Linked DNA regions of Homo sapiens. Each later gene encodes a partner of the first gene's protein in a complex. Each region holds a gene or a part of one and is shown on either strand. Other genes may lie near its edges. The genes, in order: IRF3 and CREBBP. A codon is read from its position in the direction of its gene.

Region 1 (8,186 bases):
CCCAAGGATCTGGCTCTATGCAGGTAAGACCTGGGCAAAGCAGGCTGGGTAGAATTTCAGAGGGGATGCTCCCCCAGCTTGGGCCTCAGCAGGATCAAGGTGAGGGAGTTTTTCAGTTCCCAAGAGGCTGACAGCCCCCTGCGAATCGAAATCCATGAAATCCCGGGAAGGTGTGCTCGGGCCTTGAATGCTGGGTGAAGACTTGGAATTTTCTCCTGAGGAGACCGGGGCAGGGACAGACAGGGTCAGCACTGGCTCAGGTGAGGGGCAGGCTGGAGGCAGGGGAGTGGGGGGATCGTCTAGAGGGAGAGGACAAGGCCCATGGAGACAGGTCGGAGACTGAGGGGCATGAAAGTTGGGCACATTCTCACCTGGGTATCAGAAGTACTGCCTCCACCATTGGTGTCCGGAGAGGTGTCTGGCTGGGAAAAGTCCCCAACTCCTGTTGAGAAAAGTGGTGAGGGGAGTAGGAGTGCCAGGAACCCTTGGGGCCCCAGCCTCCCACACGAACCCCAAGCTGGCAGACCTGAGTTCACAAACTCGTAGATTTTATGTGGGTCGTGAGGGTCCTTGCTCCGGTCCTCTGCTAAACGCAACCCTTCTTTGCGGTTGAGGGCAGAGCGGAAATTCCTCTTCCAGGTTGGCAGGTCTGGCTTATCCCTCCCGGGAACATATGCACCAGTGGCCTCGGCCCAGGCCTGGGGCAACAGTGGTGTCAGGATGGTGGGGGAGGACGACTTAGATCCTGCTCCTGGGGCCCTAACCCTGTCTCCCGAGTCCTAACACCACCCTCTTTCCCTGGCAAGTTCTAACTCTGCAAGGTCCATCCCCAAATCCCCCCGTCCCACCTACCTCCATCCCCCACCTCTAGTTTTCAAAAGGCTTTTTTTCTTTTTGAGATGGAGTTTCACTCCTGTCACCCAGGCTGGAATGCAATGGTGCAATCTCAGCTCACTGCAACTTCCGCCTCCCCGGTTCAAGCGATTCTCCTGTCTCAGCCTCCTGAGTAGCTGGGATTACAGGTGGGCACCACTACACCTGGCTAATTTTTGTATTTTTAGTAGAGATGGGGTTTCACCATGTTGGCCAGGCTGGTCTTGAACTCCTGACCTCAGGTGATCCGTCCTCCTCGGCCTCCCAAAGTGCTGGGATTACAGGCATGAGCTACTGTGCTCGGCCTCTTCAAAAGCCTTTGAAACCTCTTTGGTTTTTGTTTTGTTTCGCTTTTGTTTTTAAAGAGATGGAGCCTATGTTGCCCAAGCTGGCCTCAAACTCCTGGGCTCAAGCGATCCTCCCGCCTTGGCCTTGCAAAGTGCTAGGATTACAGGTGTGAACCACCGCCCCCGGCCCAAAAACCTTTTCTTTCTAAGCCAGGCTTCCAAGTCCAACTTGGTGTCTAATCCCGTGCACCACCTGCCCCGCGACACCCTCTGTGATAACCCCGCCCCTCACACTGTTTACCACCTCTGGCATATACTAATTCGGTAGTTAGGAACCTCAGATTTGGGGCTCCAGGCCTCACCTCTGATGTTTCAAGAACCATCCCCCAGTATCTATCCTACAACCAAGAGCCCCGGCCTCTAGAAAGCCCCAAACCCCCAGGATGCATTTCCTTTGCGTACTAACCGGCTTTCCCGGTTTTATTCCCGTAACCCTGCAGCTCCAACCCTGCTTGCGCCCCACCATCAGTCAGCGGATCCGGCTAGCCCCGCCCCTCCCGTTCTAGCCCCACCCACCAGCGTTGGCACGAGCCCGCCCCTCGCGCGCCACCTCCGCCTTCTCAGCCGGGCCCACTAGGAGTCCTTTCCGCCCAGCGCGCAGCTCCGGGTTTCCAGCGTCCCAGGTCGTCGCACGCACCTGGAAGATTCCGAAATCCTCCTGCTGTGCATCCTGCCGTAGGCCGTGCTTCCAAGGGATGCGGAAGCGCGTGCGGCTCTTGTTCACCCAGGCCACGCCCTCCAGTTGCCCCAGGTCCAGCTGCGACACCAGCCAGGGCAGGATCCGTGGCTTTGGGGTTCCCATGGTCCGGCCTGCGCGTATAGGGCATTTCCTGGGCGCGACCGGCCTCCCCCGGACCCACCTGGCCTGGAGTTTCCGCACCCAGACCTCCTTCTCACGGGCCACGGCACAGGTCCTTCACCCATATTTTCGGGGGTACAAACAGGAAACCTCCTCTTCCCATCCTCCCATCCTCCCGAGAGGCTCTCTAATCAGCTAGGGTTCCTTCCCATATCCATGGCACATCCTTCCCCAGCGTCTTCAGTGCAGACCCTCCACTCCCTCAATTCCGCCAGTATAGACCTCCTCCCTCCCCCACATCATCGAAAGTAAGTATCCCCACTTTCAGGGTAGCATCCTCTTTCCCTAGTTATTTCAGTGCAGAATCGATTCACGTGTAAGCCTCTACCTCCTGCACTTACCCCAATGTAGACCCCCTTCCACAGTCCCCCTACAGAAGATCTCCCAAAACATTTCCAACACAGAACTTCCATTCAATTCCCCTCCGACTGCCCGCCTCCCTCCTCCAGGACAGAGCACGCCCCAGGTTTCGAGACTGAACTACCCCCATCTACGGAGTCCACCCCTCCCTCTCTAGAACCCCCTCAGTGTAGACGCCTCCTCTTTTCCTCTTTCCTCCCTACTTTTTCTAGTTTTTCTGCAGCCGACCTCCAGCGTCGGCCACTGTAGCTCCTTCCTTGCTCCACTTTCCCCAGAGTACACAGCCTGCCTTTCCACTCTCCGTGCAGACCCATCCTCTTTCCCGCTCCTCGCTCTCGGACGCCACCAACGCTCTCCCGGGCTCTTCCGCGTTACCTACGATGGAAGGTCGGGGCGTGCGGGCAGCTGGAACCCACCCCTGTCTTGGAGCTCCGGGTAGCTCTCAAACTCGAGGCTGCGCACCCCCTTTCCCGTCAGCTGAGCTCTAGAGCGCTGGGGCTTTCTTTTTGATCGACTTCTTGAAATAAAACCAACTTTATCATTCTTTGGGTAACAGACCCAAAAGCCGATGGGACGGCCCGCTGGGCTGTTCCCGCCCCTATGCCCTTTTTTGGGTTTCCGGCCAGAGGCATGCTGGGAGCGTCACATGCAAATTGAGCGTGCACCCAGCGTTCCGCCCTTTCTACGCTGGGCCGGTTATCGACCCGGCCCAGTGCGCAGGCGCGGGAAAGTTGAACTAATAAAGTTTGTACGAGTTCAGTGGAGGAGACCGCAAGTTGAGTGGAGGAGGCGGCGGTGGGGCCCCGGACCAGGTCAGCGGGGTGTTGACGAGGGGTGGGGTGAGGAGGGAAGAGGAGGGGGCCGGGATCCAGTGGTGGGCACCCCAGTCCCGCTTCTCTGATATCCAAGGGTCCAGGGTCCTCTAGATTCCAGCAGGGGTCGGAGATTTGGAACTACACCTCACAGCAGGCTGCGCGGCGAAGAAGCGCGGACCTAGGGGAAGATTTGCCCTGAAACCTCTTGGGATTGGTAGTTCCCGATGCTTTAAGGGTTTCAGGAGTTTGGCATATGCCTCTTATAGAATCCAGGAGTTGGGGCGCTAAGCCTCTTCTTCCTGGGAGACCTAAGGGTCTGGGGCTCCAGTTCCTTTTTCTCTAAGACTCAGAAGTCCAGGACCCCAGCTCCCTCCTCCTTTAGACCCACGAATCTGGGCACCCAGCCCCACCACCTTTCCTTGGATCGAAGAGTCTTTTTCCTGATCGCTTTTTCGTCTGAGGACTCAAGAGTCTAGGCCCCCAGACCCACACTCTCCAAAGGACCCAGGAGTCCAGGCCCTCAGCACCTTCCTTGGGACTCACAAGTCCTGGTCCCCAAGCCTCCACTTCTTGCTAAACCCTTGGAGTCCAGTCCCTAACCCTCTCTCTCACAGGTGCCTCCATGGCAGGCTCTGAAGAGCTGGGGCTCCGGGAAGACACGCTGAGGGTCCTAGCTGCCTTCCTTAGGCGTGGTGAGGCTGCCGGGTCTCCTGTTCCAACTCCACCTAGGTAAGAGGAGTGGCCCTTCTCCCCCAGGGGCCAGCATTTGAGGCTCCCTCCTAACTCTTGCTCCTGGTCTCAGTCTGTCTCCTCTCTTTATATCTGGCTCTATTCTCTGTCTTTGGGGTTTTGGAGAGAGGTCCTCAGCGGGGGAGGGAGGGAGTTGGGGAAAGAGACTGCTTGCAGGGGATCTCTGGTGGGGTCAGTCTCTGAAGTCCTCCTCTCCAGAAGCCCTGCCCAAGAAGAGCCAACAGACTTCCTGAGCCGCCTTCGAAGATGTCTTCCCTGCTCCCTGGGGCGAGGAGCAGCCCCCTCTGAGTCCCCTCGGCCTTGCTCTCTGCCCATCCGCCCCTGCTATGGTTTAGAGCCTGGTAAGAGATTTCCATGATCATCTATGAAGCCGGCAGAACACGGGATAAGGTGCTAGTTTAAGATCACTCAGCTAGGGGGTGGCTGTGTGGAGTCTCTAGCACCAGCCTTCAGGACAGAACCGTCCTGTCCTCTCCCCTCCCCAGTTAGATTTCTGTCAATTCTGTGGGTTGGCTTTCAGAGAGCATTTGGTCAATCTGGTTGTTGTCTCTTTCCTTCCATAACTACTTCCCTGCCCCTAGGACTTTTGTAGCCAGGAATACCCCTGATAGAGGGGCAGAAGGGCTGGTTTTCAATCACATCTCCCTGGCTGTTTTAGTTGCGTGACTCTGGGGAAAATGCTTTCTCTTCCCTGCTCCCCTGTTTTTCCAATAGCAGAGTAGGAATTGGGGAGGAGGTCACTGGACTTGATCAAGGTGACCCACAAGTTTCCTCATAGGTGTGAACCTGGACAGACTAGTAATGGCTGCTGGGAGTGCTAGCTTGAAAAGGGGTTCACAGCTTGGGAGAGGAAGTGCTGTGATCAATTGGTGATGTCTGTAGTGAGTGAGGGAAGGGGATACTAACAGTAATGTCTTGTGTTTGCCTTCCTTGGATGAGATCATCTTCAAGGTCTAGTTGAGCTCTGACAGTCTTTTGGAGACAGATTGTTGCTCTGTCACCCAGGCTGGAGTGCAGGGGTGCAATCTCGACTCACTGCAATCCCCACCTCCTGGGTTCAAGCGATTCTCGTGCCTCAGCCTCCCGAGTGACTGGGATTACAGGTGCACGCCAGCATACTAGCTGATTTTTATACTTTTAGTAGACACGGGGTTTCGCCACGTTGGCCAGGCTGGCCTCAAACTCCTGGCCTCAAGTGACCCTCCCACGTCGGCCTCCCAAAATGTTGAGATTGCAGACGTGAGCCACCGCACCCTGTCAGCTCTGACATTCTTTTTTTTTTTTTTTTTTTTGAGACGGAGTTTCGCCCTTGTTGCCCAGGCTGGAGTGCAATGGCCCGATCTCGGCTCACCACAACCTCTACCTCCCGGGTTCAAGTAATTCTCCTGCCTCAGCCTCCCAAGTAGCTGGGATTATAGGCATGCGCCACCATGCCCGGCTAATTTTTTTTGTATTTTTAGTAGAGATGGGGTTTCTCCATGTTGGTCAGGCTGCTCTCGAACTCCCAACCTCAGGTGATCTGCCTGCCTCAGCCTCCCAAAGTGATGGGATTACAGGCGTGAGCCACTGCGCCTGGCCCCAGCTCTGACATTCTAAGTCCAGTCTGAGGATCTCATAAAGTGAAAAGTACAAGGGTTTTGGCATTTTTAACCAAGTTTTCTCACTGGGCCTCAGTTTACCCCATTATAAAATGGGAATCATGGCCAGGCTTGGTTGCTCACGCCTGTAATCCTAGCACTTTGGGAGGCTGAGGTGGGTGGATTGCCTGAGGTCAGCCTGGGCAACACGGTGAAACCCCATTTCTACTAAAATACAAAAAATTAGCCAGGTATGGCGGCGTGCGCCTGTAGTCCCAGCTACTCATGAGGCTGAGGCAGGAGAATTGCGAGACTCCGTTTCCCAAAATCAATACATAAATAAATAATAAATAAAATGGGAATCATTGCCACCTGCCAAGGTAGTTGGGGGAAGGAGAGAATCCGTAAGTTTCCAATGTCCTGGAAACCTGTCATTAACTCTTTTCACCCCAGGCCCAGCTACTCCAGACTTCTATGCTTTGGTGGCCCAGCGGCTGGAACAGCTGGTCCAAGAGCAGCTGAAATCTCCGCCCAGCCCAGGTGAGGCACAGAGGAGCCCCAGAGAAGGATGGCGGTGGGAGGATAGTCAGGGTTCTGCCCCCAGCCAAATTCTCTTCTGCCTCCAGAATTACAGGGTCCCCCATCGACAGAGAAGGAAGCCATACTGCGGAGGCTGGTGGCCCTGCTGGAGGAGGAGGCAGAAGTCATTAACCAGAAGGTGATGGGCATCTGTCCCACTCCTTGGCAAGGACAGGAGTTGCGGAATGGTGGGGCACTGGGATCAGAAGCTGGATCTGTATTTTCTTTGGATGGTCAGGTGGAAAGAGGCTGGGACAAGGTTTCAATGAAGGGTTGAGGCCGGGTGTGGTGGCTCACGCCTGTAATCCCAGCACTTTGGGAGGCCGAGTTGGGTGGATGACTTGAGGTCAGGAGTTCGAGACCAGCCTGGCCAACATGGTGAAACCCCATCTCTACTAAAAATACAAAAATCGGACAGGTGTGGTGGTGCGCTTCTGTAATCCCAGCTACTCAGAAGGCTGAGGCAGGAGAATCGCTTGAGCCCAGGAGGTGGAGGTTGCAGTGAGCCAAGATTGCGCCACTGCACTCCAGCCTGGGTGACAGAGTGAGACTCTGTCTTTAAAAAAAAAAAAAAAAAAGAATAGTTGAATGACAGGGGTATGGTTAGGGTAGTACTGTACCGTAAATTAGTTGTTTTAATTGATTGTTTAGAGGGGCATGGCCTAAATGCAGAGGGTGTGGCCATCAGAAACATTATCCACAAGAGACTGGCCAAGCTGGGGAAGTAAGTGAATGAATGTGGGGGTGGGGGGAGTGGCTAAAATCTTACTGAGCATAGAAGGGACCTGGCTTAGAATGTAGGGGAAAATGTACTACCAGAGGAGGTGTGGCTTGTGGCTGTGTCCTGGAATCTGATTGGCTTCGGAGCTTGGACAAGGTACATCGTCCTTTAATATTAATTGAATGGTAGAGGGCAAGATTGTTGTAGACACTAGGTTGGCCCCTGGGAAAGGTCACCAGGGGCATGGCTAGATTAACTCAGTTACAGTAGAGATTGGCCCTGATTGGCTGTTGAGGCAAGGGCCTGGCATGGCTTAGGGACTCACGTTCCAGGCCACTATCCCGGGGGTAGTTTGGCAGAGACCCTGGAGTCTGGCTTGATTGGCTAATATGGATGAGGGGTGGCCTAGAACCTTAGCATCTAGAACGATCCTGAACCGGGAAGCCACGCCTCCCGGCCCTCTATTGGCTGGCCCCGGGGGCGCTGCTGACGCGGACCCTGCCTCTTCCACCCTACAGCTGGCCTCGGACCCCGCCCTGCGCAGCAAGCTGGTCCGCCTGTCCTCCGACTCTTTCGCCCGCCTGGTGGAGCTGTTCTGTAGCCGGGATGACAGCTCTCGCCCAAGCCGAGCATGCCCCGGGCCCCCGCCTCCTTCCCCGGAGCCCCTGGCCCGCCTGGCCCTAGCCATGGAGCTGAGCCGGCGCGTGGCCGGGCTGGGGGGCACCCTGGCCGGACTCAGCGTGGAGCACGTGCACAGCTTCACGCCCTGGATCCAGGCCCACGGGGGCTGGGTGAGCCGCTGAAGCCTCTCTCTCCGGGCCTCACTTTACCTAACTGTCATGTGATAGAGGAGGGGCGGGGACTTCTTAGGTTCCTCTCAGACCTCAGGTATTCTCCCAGCTCCACTGCGTTCGTTCTGTTGAGCCCTTGCTGTATGCCAGGACTGCAGCGATGAGTGCAGACACTATGCCTGGCGTCAACGACTGGGTACGCTAATACTGTGAGCGTGAAACCAGTGACTGAGGTTACTCAGGGAGAGGCCGGACGGGGTAGCTCATGCCTGTAATCCCAGCACTTTTGGAGGCCAAGGCAGGAGAATTATTTGAGGCCAGGAGTTCAAGACCAGCCTGGACAACATAGTAAGACCCCATCTCTACAAAAATTGAAAATAACTAGCCAGGGTCGGGTGCGGTGGCTCACACCTGTAATCCCAGCACTTTGGGAGGCCGAGGCAGGTGGATCACCTGAGGTCAGGAGTTTGAGACCAGCTGGCCAACGTGGTGAAACCCTGTGTCTACTAAAAAA
Region 2 (6,424 bases), on another chromosome or scaffold:
GTGATTCTCCTGCCTCAGTCTCCTGAGTAGCTGGGATTACAGGCGTGCGCCACCATGCCCAGCTAATTTTTGTATGTTTAGTAGAGACGGGGTTTCACCACGCTGGTCAGACTGGTCTCGAACTGCTGACGTCGTGATCTGCCTGCCTTGGCCTCCCAAAGTGTTGGGATTACAGGCGTGAGCCACTACACCTCGGCCAATTTTTTGTATTTTTTGTAGTAGAGATGGGGTTTCACCATATTGGCCAGGCTCGTCTCAAACTCCTGACCATGTGATCTGCCCGCCTCAGACTCCCAAAGTGCTGGGATTACAGGCATGAGCCACCAAGCCCGGCCAGCACCACCTACAATCGTTTTTTTGAGACAAAATCTCACTGTTGCCCAGGCTGTAGTGCAGTGGCACGATCCCGGCTCACTGCAACCTCCGCCTCCTGGGTTCAAGCGATTCTCTGCCTCAGCCTCCTGAGTAGCTGGGATTCTAGGCGCCTGCCACCACACCCGGCTAATTTTTTTGTATTTTAATAGAGATGGGGTTTCACCTTCTTGGCCAGGCTGGTCTCGAACTCCCGACTTCATGATCCACCCGCCTTGGCCTCCCAAAGTGCTGGGATTACAGGCGTGAGCCACCGCACCGGGCCCGCATCTGCAATCCTATAATGACGAGCCGTTGAGCTAACTGTAAGTCATTAGCCAATCTGAACCATCTTTGAATCCAAGTAGTTTTACCATCTTTTATTATAAACACCATCACATTTCAAGTTTCCTCTTTTTGATCACAAATATAGGACTTTTTCTTCTCCTCTTAAGTATACAGCATGAGACACAGCGTTGGGGCTTTCCAGGTTTCTTACAGAAATTTCCTTACGACAAACTTAGGGTTAGCATCCACAGACCATGCTCTCGGTCACATCCTTCGACATCTGGATTGCCCAAGACGGTTGCACAGGATGCAGACTCCAAAGAGGATGAGGTTGGTACATAACGTTTTGAATTCCAGGATAACCTGAAACAGAGGCCCCTCCACTGCCCACATTAAAAGGCTGCACAACCAGGAGGGCGCCACTTTCTGAGTGTGGGCTTAGAGCTGCTGCTCTCGGGCTCTAGCCCCACTTCTTGTTTGAACACATGGCTCAAGGTTTCCCTACGGGTGGAAAAGATGAAGAGGACACTGGAGGTTAAGAACCCAGCAGGCCGAGCAGTGGCAGCAATCTCCACCGGAGGCCCGGCCTGTGCTTCCCCTCCTGGGATGGGGTGAATGGGGGCTGGTCAGGGGTGCCAGATGGTGGTCTTATTTTTACTTGAATTATTCTGCATTTTATAACTCAAGGTTCAAAGCTCTGTGCTAAAACTAGATCGGACCTTTCCAACTTCTTAGAAAGGTTCCTCGAATTCAGATTCCCAAACCAAGTATTCAGCTATTTAAAACCTATCTGTGAATGTAAGGGCCCAAACGGAAGCTATTTGGGGCGTGATTTCTAAAATTACCATCACCCCCACCTAGACCAGCCTTTGTTGGGGGACTAGGGATAAAGTGGGTTCTCTGGGTGCTGGGGGTGGTAGACTTAGGGGATGAACTTCAGCTCCCCTGCCCATGGTCCTCCTCTCAGTTTTACGGTTTTTGTGAACTTGTCTCACCCACTCAGTAAGGGAGCCTGGAACTGGACTCCAAGGGAGGCAGGACCATGTGGCTAAGTGCAAGTATCCCCCGAAGTGGGGGACCTTTCTCACTGTAACAGGGACCGGAGCTGGTGCTCCAAGGTGTCTGTCCCTCAGCATTTCCTCAAACGCCACACGGGACATGCTGCGCGGCAGCGGCAGGATTTGGGGGGAAGTCAGAAAGCACCTCGCGAGCCTGGAGCACTCTCTGCCTCAGATTCTGGGAGTCGTGTACGGGGGGGGGGAGCCGCCTGAACACGGGAAGAAGCGCCGCCTCTGGGGGTGGCAGCTACGACGGACAGGGAGGATGGAGGAGTGGGCCAAATGCAGTTTCAGACCAACTGACGACCCTAACTGTGTGAGCGACAATCACCTGTGAGCCTCGAATGTGTGGGGCCAACGCTGAGCCGCCCACCTCAGTCGCCCACCTCAGTCTCCGGGAAGAAAAGCCTCCGGGCGGCCGCTAAGCCTGGGCCACAGTTCCCAGCCACCACCCACGCCGCCACAACCACAACCGCAGCCCCAGCCTCTCCGCTATGAGCGAACAACCAGAACCATGTCTTACAAAGAACAGACTCAAAAAATATATATAAATAAATAAAAACCTTAAACATTCTTACAGGGATCTTAAAGAACAGAATACATGTTAAAAACCTCAGTAATTTATATCAATTTTAAGCGGTACTTTATATACAATGGGGAAAAAACACATGCATAGTCCAAATACAATGTTGAAAACAGCATTTTCATAACAAAAAACCCCGAACACTAAGTGTTAATACCATGTACATGAATTCAAGAAGGACCACCCTTTTTGTCTGTTGCACACAGTTTATTTAACAATATGATATAAGAAATGAGTTGGTATTTTACCATTCTATACAGTGATTGAATCTTCTCGAGTTTCGTATTTATAGGAATTAGAGCGCTTGCATGATTTACACTAGAATTGCTTTTCCTCATTTCAAGTTTCACATAGAAGAAAGAAAAGAAGGCTTCTTCTCTAGTAACATTAGCATGGTCTAAGAGTGATCATCCCTATTTTTTGTCTAAAACCAGTTTTATCAGAGAAACAAAGCAACAATTTCTACATCTGCAAGACAAGTTTGGCTTCAGCCATTATGTATAGATAGATGTGTGTGGGTGTGTACGTGTGTGCACGCCGGAGTCAATTCCTATCATCCAGGGTAATACTGGGAGACGCCCACAGAGTTCACTATAGAAAAAAATCTTCCCGAAACATCACAAAGTTATCGGGATACATTATAAGCTTGCATTATTTCAGGAATCAGTTCTGAATATTATTTTTCTTCTTACTTTTAAACATAAATGTTTAAAGTCTTGAAAATACAAATAAAAAATATGAATATAATGAACTTGTTTTTCCCGTTAAAAAAAGGCATGAGTCACCAGCAATGACGACAAAAAGAATCCAAACAAAACCCCCCTCCCCCCAAACAAAAACAAAACGGAAAAAAAAGAACCCCCCCCACCCCCCCGCCAAAAAAAAACCAAAGAGAGAGACCAGATATTTAAATCAACTGGTTTTTAACAAAAAAATATATTCTTTGTATTGTTTCTTTAAACATCAATCCACCCTTCCATGGCTCGGAAGTCGCAGTTCCATCTAGGAATAAAAAGAACCTAGATGCCTGGATTTTCAGTACAAAAGGTCCAAGAACATGAAAGGGAAAAGGTGATGCTCTCACAATGCTACAAGCCCTCCACAAACTTCTCTAGCGTGTCCCCCGTGGTGTCCCCGACCAGGGACAGTTCGCTGGACAGCGCACTCCTGCTGGGGGTGTTCAGCTGGGGGAGCATTGCACTCTGTTCGGGGTTCCCCAAGTGTCCCTGATCTATGGAGCTGGCCATGGTGACTGCGAGTCCGGGGTGGGGGGAACCAGTCTGGGGTGAGACGTGGTGTGGCGAAGGCTGGGGCTGTATCCGTGGTGACGGGCTGGAATGTGGAGGCTGGGACTGGGGCCGTGGAGACTGGACAGGGGCTGGAGACCGCACCTGGTTACTAAGGGACGTGGCGATCTGCTGGCCAGGGAGATGCGAGGCCTGTGGCTGTCCTGAGAGCATGTGTTGCTGGGGGCTCATGGGGTTCGGCTGGCCTGGGGACCCAATCTGCTGCTTCATCTGCTGTTGCTGCAGAATCCGCTGCTGCAGGGCTTGCTGGATGTTGGGGGTGCTGTCTGCCCCCAGCCCCGGCTGCCCCATCTGGCCAAGCTGTCCCATCTGAGCCGCCATCTGGCCCATGGAGCTGCCCTGGAGGGGGAGATGCTGCTGCATGCGCTGCTGCTGCTGCATGGCCGGTGGGTAGCCTCCGGGTCCTTGAGGCTGCTGGAACTGGCCGTGCCCCGCCATGCCCCCAGCCATGCCGGCACTCCCTTGCTGCTGCTGCTGTTGCTGCTGTTGTTGCTGCTGCTGTTGCTGCTGCTGCTGCAGCAGCTGCCTCCGTAACATTTCTCGGTACTGTGGATTCATACTCGCCATGTTGGGGTTGTGTCCTGGGTTCATGATGTTCAAGGCCTGGCCCTGGGGGTTCAGGCCTCCCATCGCCTGCTGCTGTGGAGGCACACCGGGCCGCGGCACGCCAGCCTGCATGGCATTCAGGTTCTGCAGGCTGGGCTGCTGGTGCATGCCAGGCTGGGGTTGCATGCCGGGCTGGGACTGGAGGCCAGGCTGGGGCTGCATGCCGGGCTGATTGGCCACGTACTTGGCTGTGCGCTGTTTGATGAAAGCTGCCATTAGCTGCGGGTTTGATTTGAGAATGTTCAGCACCTGCTGTTGCTGCTGAGGGGAGCTGGGCGACTTCAGGGTCCGCAGCAGGTCTTGCAGAGCGCTGGGTGAGATGCTCCTGGGTGGCTGCACGCTGGGCATCCGGGGCCCAGCCACGGCCGCCTGGGCCTGCATGGATATCACAGGCCTGGGCAAGCCTGGCATGGGCTGCTGCTGGGGAAGGGGCGCCTGCTGCCACTGCCCGGGAGGCATGCTGGGCATGACGGGCCCGCTCACCTGGTTGGGTCGGGGCACATTCAGGCTCACGGGGGCCATCTGGCTCCCCGGGGTCCCCATGCCCGTGCGTCCTGGGGGCATGCTGTTGTTGATGTTCACCCGGTACAGGTGCTGCTGCTGCTGGGCCTCACGCTCGATCTGCCGAGCCGCTTCCACCGCTGCAGGAGGGGGCTGGGCCGGGGGTGGGGGGGCCGGCACCTGGCTGGTAGGCTTCCCTGTGGACACCGTGGTGGGGGGCTGAGTCCGGGCCACGCTGGGGAAGCCAGCTGGTGACATGCTCACGGGTGAGGGTTGGGGCTGGGCAGGGGGCTGCGGCGTCTGGGGTGTGCTGGGCTGCTGTGTGGGGGTCCCGGGCGGTGCTGAGGTAGGAGAAGGCAGACTCTGCTGAGGCACGTTGCGGGTGTTCATGGTGGCCATCCGCCGGCGCATGAGCTGGGCCTGCTGCAGGCGGTGCTGGATCTGCTGCTGGCGGAGCTTGTGTTTGATGTTGAGGCAGAAGGGCACGGGGCATTTGTTTTCTTGGCAGTGCTTGGCGTGGTAGCAGCAGAGGGCGATGAGCTGCTTGCACACCGGGCAGCCCCCGTTGGTCTTGCGTTTGCAGCCCTTGGTGTGCTGCACCACCCGCTTCATCTTCTGGCAGGATGGCAGCGAGCAGTTGGCGTTGCGGCACTGGCACGCGTGCACCAGCGACTGGATGCAGCGCTGGATGCTCAGCCGGCGTGACTCCTGGGGGCTCTTTGACTGTGGCTCGCCCTGGCTGCTGCCCTCGTCATCCAGGCCCAGCCCCCACTTCACCATCTTATGGGCATGGCTCTTCGTGTTATAGCAGTTGATGCAGAGGTCGTAGTCCTGCAAGCAAGGAAAGGGGACAGGCCGGTGTCAGCATGGGACCCAGTACCACCAGGCATCCTGGCTGCTTCCCTCCACCGCTAAGTCTGGGTCTGTGCCAGGAGACCCAGGCAGGATAGGAGACCCAGACAGGATGCGAGCACGGACAGGTGGGAGACCCGGACAGGGCGGGAGCACGGACAAGATGGGATCATGGACGGGATGGGATCATGGACAACATGGGATCATGGACAGGACGGGGGCATGGACTGCCTATGTGTTGCTCCCAAGGACCTTCACTCCTGGCAACAGCCCTGAAGGCTCAAAGATAACCTGACCCATGCCCCAAGAACCCCTGGCCTGTAAGCTCACGGACAGTAGACACCAGCCCCCTTCCTTCCGACTTCCTCTGACCTGGGAGTCACATCAGCCCTTGCCACAGCCTGTCCAACTCCTGTACTCAAACTATGAAGCCAGACAGTGAAAGGCTGAGGGAGGCCGGTCCCTCCCAAAGCGCCGACAGCTGCCGTGAAGTGCCTCTGGGAAGGCCTGAGCTATCCGCAGTGCACCAGTGGGACTTCCCCAACGCGCAAGCCCAAGTTACTGAAAACTGCTCGCACCTGGCAACCTGATGGAGCCCTAGGACCAGGTACCATGACTGTGTTCACAAAAAGATATGAAAACTGCCGCATTCAGAAACTAGAAAGAGGACAAAGGAGACTGGAGAAAGGTGGAAAGCGGAAGAAGTGTGTGAAGGTGGGGAGGGAAGAAAGGCCCTCGCTCTGCTGAGGACCCGCTCTGCCCCGCTACAGACACCACAGCAAGTGAGGAGGCTCCGGGTTGGCAGGTGATGGTGACTGTCCTGGGAGGGGGATGGTGGGATCTGTCACCTGCCTGCCCTGCACAGCCTGACTCGGCCC

Evidence for each region.
Region 2: the proteins of IRF3 (region 1) and CREBBP are in contact, whole or in part, in a crystal structure (PDB 5JEM), measured with the Homo sapiens proteins. Residues at the interface, in NP_001562.1 of Homo sapiens: Pro198, Gly199, Glu200, Glu201, Trp202, Glu203, Ser221, Leu322, Ile326, Leu329, Ile330, Thr333, Thr370, Cys371, Leu372, Ala374, Leu375, Glu377, Met378, Ala379, Val381, Gly382, Gly383, Ala384; in NP_004371.2 of Homo sapiens: Leu2070 (codon at 4,490), Thr2073 (codon at 4,481), Leu2074 (codon at 4,478), Lys2075 (codon at 4,475), Ser2076 (codon at 4,472), Ser2079 (codon at 4,463), Gln2081 (codon at 4,457), Gln2082 (codon at 4,454), Gln2084 (codon at 4,448), Gln2085 (codon at 4,445), Val2086 (codon at 4,442), Asn2088 (codon at 4,436), Ile2089 (codon at 4,433), Leu2090 (codon at 4,430), Asn2093 (codon at 4,421), Gln2095 (codon at 4,415), Leu2096 (codon at 4,412), Ala2099 (codon at 4,403), Phe2100 (codon at 4,400), Gln2103 (codon at 4,391).

Annotation. Positions count from the first base shown.
Region 1 is NC_000019.10:49,662,817-49,671,002, forward strand, and holds the start of IRF3 (interferon regulatory factor 3), read right to left. Parts: upstream 3,008-8,186; 5' UTR 2,815-3,007; exon of another isoform or gene 2,326-2,814; intron 2,031-2,325; 5' UTR 2,023-2,030; coding exon 1,858-2,022; exon of another isoform or gene 1,687-1,857; coding exon of another isoform or gene 1,627-1,686; exon of another isoform or gene 859-1,626; coding exon of another isoform or gene 853-858; intron 699-852; coding exon 527-698; intron 443-526; coding exon 372-442; intron 1-371. Other genes in the region: BCL2L12 (bcl-2-like protein 12), read left to right, coding at 3,877-3,983, 4,203-4,345, 6,035-6,121, 6,208-6,299, 7,400-7,672.
Region 2 is NC_000016.10:3,724,350-3,730,773, forward strand, and holds the end of CREBBP (CREB-binding protein), read right to left. Parts: intron 5,526-6,424; coding exon 3,369-5,525; 3' UTR 705-3,368; downstream 1-704. UniProt on the Homo sapiens protein: Acetylates histones, giving a specific tag for transcriptional activation. Mediates acetylation of histone H3 at 'Lys-18' and 'Lys-27' (H3K18ac and H3K27ac, respectively).